Regions from separate parts of the Homo sapiens genome. Here region 1 is linked to region 2. The links come from fine-mapping of genetic effects on gene expression. Tissue or cell type: cerebellar hemisphere. Region 2 holds a variant in brackets; the other region holds the start of a gene. All regions are shown on one strand. Distances are from middle to middle.

What was found. PIP is the estimated chance that this variant, and not a neighbour inherited with it, causes the effect.
Region 1: SLC25A27 starts here. The variant in region 2 is fine-mapped to the expression of SLC25A27 in cerebellar hemisphere (GTEx, PIP above 0.99). The same link has a PIP of 0.9 or more in anterior cingulate cortex, atrial appendage, caudate, cerebral cortex, nucleus accumbens and pancreas.

Annotation. Positions count from the first base shown.
Region 1 is chr6:46,650,515-46,655,746 of GRCh38, forward strand. SLC25A27 (solute carrier family 25 member 27) reads left to right here and starts at 2,461. Exons shown (of 9, transcript NM_004277.5): 1 at 2,461-2,784. The coding sequence starts at 2,679. It overlaps CYP39A1 (cytochrome P450 family 39 subfamily A member 1), which reads right to left and starts at 2,304. Exons shown (of 12, transcript NM_016593.5): 1 at 1,892-2,304. The coding sequence starts at 2,068. RefSeq lists enhancers at 2,209-2,258, 2,489-2,618 and silencers at 2,279-2,368, 2,799-2,898.
Region 2 is chr6:46,675,065-46,680,296 of GRCh38, forward strand. It overlaps SLC25A27 (solute carrier family 25 member 27), which reads left to right. Exons shown (of 9, transcript NM_004277.5): 9 at 1,319-3,126. The coding sequence ends at 1,390. All of the region lies in intron 1 of TDRD6-AS1 (TDRD6 and SLC25A27 antisense RNA 1), which reads right to left. It also overlaps a transcript of TDRD6 not described here. Among named protein-coding and RNA genes, the nearest start is that of TDRD6, 10 kb to the right of the region's middle. The variant C/T (reference allele first, on the strand shown) is at 2,074.

The sequences.
Region 1 (5,232 bases), 25 kb before region 2:
TTTTTAAGAGACAAGGTCTCGCTCTGTTGCCCAGGCTCGAGTGCAGTGGCTCAATCATAGCTTACCGGAATCTGGAACTCCTGAGCTCAAGCAATCCTCCCGCCTCAGCCTCTCGAGGAGCTGGGACTACAGGCATGTGCCACTGGACCAGATTAAATTTTTTATTTTTCTATTTAGTTTTTGTAGAAATGAGGTCTTGCTATATCTCCCGGGCTGGTCTTAAATTCCTGGCCTCAAGCAATCCTCCCACCCCTGCCTCCCAAAGTGTTGGGATTACAGGTGTGAGACACAGAGTCCAGCAATAACTTGTTTTGTTTAGTCAGGAAAGCAATAGAGACCTCACAAATATTTAGCCTTCTGACACAAGCTTGTAAAAAAACAGTTCCTTAAAAATTATCAAGATCATATGCATAAGGAAGGCTGTGGGAGACAAAGGAGTATTTCTTTAGGAGATATAATGTTTCATCTATCAGACTAGCAAAAATTGCAAAGAATTATGGTATTCAGTATGGCCCAGGATTTGAGAAGTTAGGCAATTGCATACAGTCAATGGAAAATAAAAATTGCATATTCATACTTCTTTTTCCAAAAGTAACACATTCATATAAACAATTTAAGTGTGCATGTCCTTTGACTCAGCAATTCTACTCCTAGGAATTTATTCTGAGTAAACAATCAGATAATTGCAAAATGTACAACCACACAATCAATACATGCACACAAACACGCAAGAATGTTCACTGAAGCACTGGCTGAAAGAAAAAAGTTTGGCAGCAACCTATAAACCCAACTATTGAGATTTAAGTAAACTATTGTATCCTCCTATGACAAAATATAGCCATAAAAGGAAGATTCAAAGTATTTCATGGTACAGGAAAGTCATTCACATTATATGTTAAAATCAAAAGCACATAAAAGAGTATTATACTATTATTCCATTGTTGTTCATTAAATAGTTGTAAATACATAGGAAAATGACCAAAATAATATAAATACACTAAATTTTTACAGTACAGCTGGTGTGATATTCTGGGTTATTTTTATTTTCATCTTAGTTCTCTTTAATTTTCTATATGTTTTTTACTAAATTGGAATCTCAGAGATTTTGAAGGCAAATGATCAGTGGTAAAATAATGCTACTACGTATAAATTCATTCTACAAATTGGGCTAACCAGATGGAAAATGGGTCACCACAGAAAGTATTATAATTCATAAGAATAATTATAATATCATACAAATTTATTAGACAATCAAATACCATAAAATATTTGTGACTGGAAATTGAATAAAACTTAAAAGACATTAATAAAGGTCTGTTCCTTAAAGTGCTCAGACATTTAAAAGATACTTTCAAGACAAAAACATCTACTACAAGGAGGATTACTAGTCTCTTCAGGCCGTAGTGAAAATGGAGTACATCATCATCAAATAACAACGTCAGCTAAAAATACAGAGCCTGTTTATTGTGTACGGACCAACTGTGCAAGCAATTTGTACAATACTTTGGTGTTAACTCCAATTTGGATACGAATTACTCATTTTCACAAACTTAAATTGGATTACACTTTATCTTTCCCAATTACTGAAAACATTTACTTAACACATACACATTTGGAACTTAACTTCGATGAAGTAAAAATACGAAAAGTTAATCTCTACTTCCAAAAATGTCGATGCACGCTGCAATTGTATTTCATTTCTTTCGCAAAATTTTGCACAGGATATTGTTGTTAATTGTTAGTAGAGGAATTCAGAAATGACTAGATCCTTTAGTTGAGGCAAGCAGGTATGTTCCCCGTGTTCTAGCCCTGCACTTAAGAGTCAATGAAAGAAAGTTTAAAAAAGAAAGCATTGTCTCCTCTGGAGACCCCGTCTGCCACGACCACATACCTTGATTCTTGCTTTCTCTATAAATTCTAGAGGGGCTTTCCCAAACTCAAATCCAACTCCAATCCAAGGAATCCAGCCCTTGATGCACGGGGGTCTACGCAAATTCTTCCGCTGAAGGAGTAAGAACAGAGCAAGGCAACCCAGGATTATAATCACTGTTGGGGAAATTAGTTCCATGTTTTTGTCCAGCACCTTCCAGAAGCAGAAAAGTGTGAAACAGTCCTGCCGTCCCTTGCTTCTTTTCTGTGGGCTACGGAACCTGTCGGGACTCCCAACCTTTCTGCTGCAACTTTTGCAGCTCTCCTTCGTAACTGTAGCTTCCTTCCTCTGTCCCAGTTTTCAGGTGATTTTTCCATTGTCGCTCCCTCCCACCTCCACTTCTCTTTGAATCTCAGCCAGCGCGGAAAAAATGCAAGGAGGGGCAGGGCCGGGCTAGGACTGACGGGCGAGAACCAGCCGCGTTGCCATGGAGGCCGGGGGCGGAGCCGCAGAGGGACCCGCGGCCGGCCAATCAGAGACGTAGCGGAGCCCGGCGGACTACATTGCCCAGTAACCTCCTGGGCTCCGCTGTGTTTTTCTATTCTGGGGTGTAAGGGGCAGCTGGACCACTCCAGCTGGGACTGCTAGGAAGGTTGCGGGTCCACCCGGCCGAGCCGAACGAGGGAAATGGTCCTCACCCGGCCACTCGCCGGTTGAAAAGGGGCCGCCCTGGCAGGGAAGCGGCCGCCGCGGCGCGGTGCAGCGCAGCGGCGAGAAGGAGTGCGTTATCGTCTTGCGCTACTGCTGAATGTCCGTCCCGGAGGAGGAGGAGAGGCTTTTGCCGCTGACCCAGAGATGGCCCCGAGCGAGCAAATTCCTACTGTCCGGCTGCGCGGCTACCGTGGCCGAGCTAGGTACCCGGCTGCCCACGCCTGGGCCTCCCGGGCCAGTGGCACGCGCCGCGCTGGGGGAGGGTGCGCGGGCGGCTTCGCGCCCGGCAGTGCGCATCGGAGAGGTCGCCCCTTCCATGCCCGCCTGGCAGAGGTGGCGGTGGAGGCCAGGCCCGCGGTGGGAGGAGGAGGGATTGAGGTCTCCACGGCCTTTTCCTTCTAATCTCTTCTAATGCTTCCCTTAGGCATGTGCTGTGGTGCTTGAATGTTGTACTTTAAGAAGCTTCGCGAGCTGTCATTCCTCTGTAGGAATCATTTTCCTTTTCATGAGGATGACCTTTTTAAAAACGTAATCTGTTTTCCATCCTTACTGAGATCATCTCTGTGGTTTATAGTCTTACACAGCCACACTGTCATTATCTTGTGGGTCCAAGTTGTGGACCTACCTTGTGGGACTTCCGTTATTAACCTGCCACTCACAGAGCATCGACTACTTGACCTCTTTGAGTGTAATTCATCTATACTGTTTACCTTGCAGGATTCTGAGAAGTCAATAATATATGATTGCTAAACCCAAGGCAGGACACCCATTAGTTGCGACATTTTTATAATTCCTACAATACCAGGGACTGTGGATATATATTTGAAAAGACCCAGTTCTGACCTTCTTACAGGCTGCTGGGGAGACAGAGAAAGACAATTATAATGTGCTACTTGTTATAATGAAGATATTATTAGGTGTCATAAAAGCATAGAAGAGCAGTTACATCTGCCTACATGAGTAAGAAAAAACTTTAAGAGGCCATCTAGAGTGGAATGATGATGCCCTTGAATGAGCAAGTAGCGTTTATTCCAAGGATTTTGTGAGTAGTATACTCATGTGTTTCCTGTGAAGCCTTAACTGTGTATTTTAAGATTACCCTTACATTTTCTTGCCTGTTACAAAAAAATAAAAAGAACAGTTCTGATGCGTTATCATTTGTAAATGTTAGTTGGTCCTATTTTAAGAGTTTATTTTTTAATTCTAGCATAGCCAGCCATGATCAGTTGTTTCGTGCTCTTCCATTTTTGCCTTTTAGCCCCTCTATTTTTTAATGTCTCTCCTTTCGAAAATGATGGAGAATTTTTACTTTTCATTGTTTTTACTGAAATAAAATTCATCAGCTTAAAAAGATCTAAAAGCAGATTGCTGAATGATATTTCCAGGTTTTATTTTTAATTGATGTGTCCCCCTCTGACTCAATGGCTTTTATACAGGACTATTCCTCGTTAAAAATTCATGGAGAGAATTGTGTGTGGAGAATGGATGGGAATCAAAATGTGGGATGGTTTTAAGTACAAACCACTTCAGGAACCTGAAGCATCATTTAACAAACCAGCGAGAAAACAAAACTTATTTTGAAAGACATAATCTGTGTAATATGGAGAAATCTATTAAGATTTTTCAGGTTTCATATGTCAATAAAATATTGCTTGAAGTCTATGCAAGCTACTTCTGTTCTAGGGAAACTGTCAGCAAGATACTAACTTTTCCAAAAACCAGTGGTAAGATTTAATATTCACTTCCCTTCCCCACATTGTTTTCTCTTGGAAAAGGTATACTAAGGTTTTGTGTCAGGTGGTGGTCATTGAAAAGTCTTATATAATGTAAGTAATGTTCATGAACTTGTCTGAATGTTATTATTTTAATTATTCAGGACGTTTTCTGTATAAGGTTATGAGCTCTATCTTCCTTATGTAGGCCGTTTAGCTTAACTGTATTAAGGTAAAAGGTCTGTATCTAATTTAAAACTTAAAACCAAAAAATTTTTCCAAAATACAGTTAGTACTTGTAAGGAGGCCATGAGTAGGCGATGCATATAATTTAGTGCTGGAAAAATAATTCCATATATGCTTTAATTGAAAGGATATTGAGCTTATGACCCTTGCATATAAAAGACAACATTATAAACTCCATTACATCTTCTGTATCTCAAACATTATGTCAGTCATTCATCTGCATGTGAACATCACCCACGAAATTATAGAGTTCAGCTTCATCTAGCATTTGTTATAGTACATAAGAATATATAGTGCAGTATTCTAATGTTACATTAGATCTCAAATAATCATGGCTGCAGTCAAGAGGATAGCACACAATATGGTACTTTAAATTATTTCCCATTGAAAAGCAAAAATTAATGACTAACAGATATTAAAGTTAAATTTCTGAATAGAAAGAACCCAAGGCTTGTCATTTTAATTTTTATTGTTAATGTTTGTTTTTTTTTTTTTTTTTTTTTTTTTTTTTTTTTTTTTTGCTAGTGATCCAGGATGCTCTTGCGTAGTGATTCTTAAATTTGGGACTGTGTGAGAATCAAGTTTCTAAACCCTCTTCAACCTACTGAATTAGAATCCATGGGCACGGGGCTAGGAAATTTCTAATTTTTAAAATCTCCCTAGCTGATTCTGATATATTCTAAAATTTGAGAA
Region 2 (5,232 bases):
TAAATCCCATTTATATACCACCCACATTTTTGGCTATATGATCTCCCACTCTTTAAAAACTCTATTCAAAATCTAGCTAAACTCTATCCTGATCCCTTCTACTGGGTAGAGGTACTATGACCTTGCTTTGCTCAGTCCCTGGTTAGTACTTATTTCATTTGCCTATGGATTTTGTTGCTATAATGTCATTAACATGAAGAAGATTGATTACCACAGCAATTAAGAATGATTGCATAGGGGTTCTTAACTAAGACCTCTACCTTCTTCATCCAACTCCAAGTATATTGGTTTACTTCATTTTTATTACAAGAATATGGTATCATCGTAGCTTTATATTCCTTATTTCATCTATGTCATCATACCTTTAAATAACCAAGATATATTCTCCTAAATCCACTATTTAGTGAATTCTCAGTTTACTAATATAGCATGCTCAGTATTTCCAAACAAATATGAGATAAACCTTGCTTTACAAACAAAACCAAATACATTTGATTTTCTAATTGCTTAAGCTTATTTATCTACTCTAGAATGATAGAGCTACTCTCTGTTCAATTTTGATTAGAACTGAATTAGGCAGGAATTATTAGATCCAAGGCACTCTTTCTCTGTTCCAGTGTTTACCCTGTGATTTCCCTCTGTGTCTTTACAGTTTACATCTTTAGCATTTATGTCCTCTTCTAACCCTTATTCTTTTATAATTCCTTTAGATGTAGCCATACCTTCATTCAAGTTAAAGACAAGCCTTTCTGAACTGGAAGGGCTTTTTTCTATTTAATGTGAATTTTTATATAAATGTTGTGAGACATCAGGTGTTGGTTTTATGACCTAAATCTCCATGGATAATCTTTCACCTTCCTCACTTTCAAGTTCTAAAGTGACTTATTTTTATGCTCCATATACAAACTAGATATAGAAAAGCCTGCCTAGAATTCAGGCATCTTGAGTCCCAGCCCTTTAGCCAGTAATGGTTCAATAAAAAGAACTCTGAGAATGGAAAACAGAAGCCTGTGGTCTAGCTCTACAACATGTCAACAGGCATTTGACTGCTAAGCTTCAGTGGTCTCATCTGAAAATCAGGGATATTAATATCTTTCCTTTCTATTGTAAGATGTTGTTTAGAGAAATCTGTGATATATAAGACATAAAAAATGCTTTGTAAATTATAAAGTCCTTTACAAAGGTGAAATACCAAAATATTTGTTTTCAGCCTAAGTGGTTGCAAAATGACTTTGTCATTCAAATATATGTATGCACATATGTAGACTATTTATAATTGCTTTGAAATATGCACTAACTTCTTTGGTTAATCTTTCAGACCCCTTGGTCAATGGTGTTCTGGCTTACTTATGAAAAAATCAGAGAGATGAGTGGAGTCAGTCCATTTTAAACCCCTAAAGATGCAACCCTTAAAGATACAGTGTTCAGTATTATTGAAATATGGGCATCTGCAACACATACCCCCTATTATTTCTACCTCTTTAGGAAGACACCTATTCCACAGAGACTGATTTATAGGGGGCAGCACTTTATTTTTTTCTGGAAACCCAAGTTCTCTTTGACTCCTCTTTTTGTCCAAAAGTGATCTGGTCGGATCTCACAAGGCCATCCAATGAGACCCCGCACAGCATTTTCTAAAGAAGAATCGAAGCCTGACCACTTTCACCTTGGGCAAGAAGGTTTGGCCTTTGAGTTGCTATTCTATGCTGAAGAGCCTGCTTAGAGGAGGAGTACCAGGAGGGAGCCAGCATTTCAGATCTGAAGTAGACGATAGGAATGTGGAAGAACACATACATAGTGCTTAAGAAATACATTTAACCTGTTATGTCAGTATTTATCAATGAAGTTTGATAATTCACTTTTCTGTCATTGTTAAAGCGTACATACTGTAAATTAAAGGGAGGTGAATGGAAATTAATGAATAAACATTTTGAGTTTCCCTAGTGTTGAAGGAAGGTGTACTTTTTCTTGTCAGAAAGATAAAAAAAATCAAGTTGAGATGATGTTTGAATTTCAAGAAAAGAGGCTGCTTTCTGTCAGTGCCCTCTCATTAGATCTGTGTTAATTAGTTAG[C/T]ACTCCACTGCACATGCTAATGACTTCCTCTGACAGCCACACACCGAATCTTGATGAAAAAAGAGAAGAGCATTTGCCTTGTTACATAGTCTGTTACAAGCCAGATATGTTGCTAGCTCTCAAGAGTTGTAATATATTAAGAACTACAACTTATTTGATTAAAACTCAGCTGTATAGATCCTTTTATAAAGCACCTTTTGTTAAACATCAGCCTTTCATTGGTATTTTAAAAGCAAGGCAGATAGATATGAAGTCAGCCAACTCTGACATGCGTCCTTTCTTATCTCCCTTACCTGACACTAGGGGCTCTAGAGAGGCAGAGAGAGCACTCACAAATCACACTAAAACTGCCAGCGGCCTGACTCTTACTCAGTTTAGCAAAAATTCTTGCCTAAAAAGTGATAAGTAAAAATCTGTTTATGGTATACAGTTATGTCTCGAATCTTTGAATCAAATCCATGTTCTTATTTTAGAAAGGTAAGAGTTCTTCAAATTCAGCTACATACCACCGGCTCTCCCAACCTCAGACGGTGGGCATTTCTGGATGGATGGCTGCGGTTATGGATAAAGGCTGTAACTGTTAACACAGAAAAACATGAAAAGCTCAGGCCCAAGAAAGGCCTTGGAGCCAGCCAAACAGAATTTGTTCTAATGGACATGGATGATGTTGAACAGAAAAAAGTTTACAAGTGCTTTGTGGTTGCACTAATGTATACTCACTGCCATTTTAAGAGGGGGAAGTACATTTTAAAATATATTTGAATGTCATGTACTGATATGCAGTAGCTTATTGTTTTTCTAGTTGCAGAGAATGTGAAGTTTAATCTCTTAAAATATTTAGATGGTCTACTTTTTCATTGAATTTGTCAATATGTAATTGCGTTGTAAAATATTATATATATATATATATATATATATATATATATATGCTTAACTTCCCAAGTGTTCTGCATTGAACCACTTAGGGAAAATTTTGTTTGTTTTTATGTTTTGTAATTTTTAAAATTAAGTAAAGACTGGATCAAAATAATTGCATCCAACCTGGACCGTGAACAATTGATTTAGCTTTATTCTTTGTGGGGTCGGGGAGTTGGGATGAAAACACTGCTTACGCACTGACATCATTCCTTGGGATCTGGATCAACACGAATTTCAGGAACTTTTAACCTGAAATGACTCCTTGGGATTATCTAATTTAACCTTCCCATTTCACATGTTAGTAAACTGAGATTCAGAGAAGTAGAGTTGTTTATGCTCATGAGTGACTTAGTAGCAGAGCCAGGATAAAAACACAGTTCTCCTAATATGATTATTATGACTGAGAGTTATTGTTCACTAATTAGGTACCAAGGAAGGGTCTTATGTCATGGTCACAACCCAGTAGAGTCTTCTAAAAACAGATTTTTCCTTATGGCATTTTTATGTCTCATACATTTTAGATGAATCTGAATTGTCTCTAGCATACATTTTAGAATGGAGTCACCATGCTTTAGCTTGAACATGAAGACCTTCTATAACCTAACCAAATCCAGTATACCCAATACTTATCCAATCACATTCATAATTTTCTGGTGAAATCATATCTACTGATTATTTTGGAACATTGCTTATTTTTGCCAACTTGGAATCATCTTGTTTTCCAAAATAATCCTCAGTAAATAAAAAGGATTAAAAATTTCAGTAATTTTTGTGTCCATACTCACAGACTTAAGAATTCCAAACTCACTTACTTATAGTACTACTCTATGTGGTATTTCTCTATTTTTTCTCCTCTCAAATGATTTTTTTCTTACTGAAAATGCATATACTTATTTTTAATTATGTAGTTTTTTATATGTATAAATGAATTAGTATATATAATTATAGACTAAATTTGCCATATATGATATAAATTATATATGAATTAATTTATATATAATTAAAGGGATAACATTTATTAAGTTTGCTTTCAATATGGAATAACATGTCTTTTTCAAGTGCTCCCAATACTATTTGATTGTAAGCTACTAGTGGGTAGGTATACATCTTCCATTTTTATATAAATCTCTGCTCTCTTTAGTAGCATTTCTTTGCTATTAAGAAAAAATGATTACAGCTACGTATAACATGAATCAATTAATTTTATCTTTATTGTTTTAAGAATCTGTGACTGGCCAGGCATGGTTGCTCATGCCTGTAATCCCAGCATTTCGGGAGACCGAGGTGGGCGGATCACGAAGTCAGGAGATCGAGACCATCCTGGCTAACATGATGAAACCCGTCTCTACTAAAAATACAAAAAATTAGCGGGGCGTGGTGGCGGGCGCCTGTAGTCCCAGCTACTAGGGAGGCTGAGGCAGGAGAATGGCGTGAACCCAGGAGGCGGAGCTTGCAGTGAGCCGAGATCATGCCACTGCACTCCAGCCTGGGTGACAGAGTGAGACTCCATCTCAAAAAAAAAAAAAAAAAGAATCTGTGACTATCATATGAGTCTGCAATTTCTCTTTTACTTTGCTAATAAAAAAATAAAAATTCAGGACAATATAAATATGAAAGGATTTGTTATTCAGTCATCTTCAAATTTTCAAGCACATTTATTTACAGTTGTTATAATTACATATATTTTTTCTATTAATGAAAACAAATTCCTTCAGGACTTTCCTAGAAAAAATGGTCAATTTTAATACTTGATGGTTAAAACAATTTCTTTGGAAAGGAAAATAAGTAATTCTTTTCTTCCCAATTAAACTGAGACTCTTTAAAGATGACTACCCAGCAAATATATATTATTATTGAATGTCAGATAATGTGGAAGAAAGACTGAACCCAGAATCTAAAGATCTTTATCCTATTTTGGGTTCTACTTCTGACAGAAGAGTATAACTAGGATCAAGTCCCTCCACTTCTCTGAATTCCCATTTCCTTAAAAGCTGAAGTGGGACGGGCGCGGTGGCTCACGCTTGTAATCCCAGCACTTTGGTAGGCCAAGGCGGGCGGACTGCCTGAGCTCAGGAGTTCAAGACCAGCCTGGGCAACACAGTGAAACCCTCGTCTCTACTAAAATACAAAAAATTAGCATGCGCCTGTAGTCGCAGCTACTCGGGAGGCTCAGACAGGAGAATTGTTTGAACCCAGGAGGCAGAGGTTGCAGTGAACTGAGATCACACCACTGCACTCCAG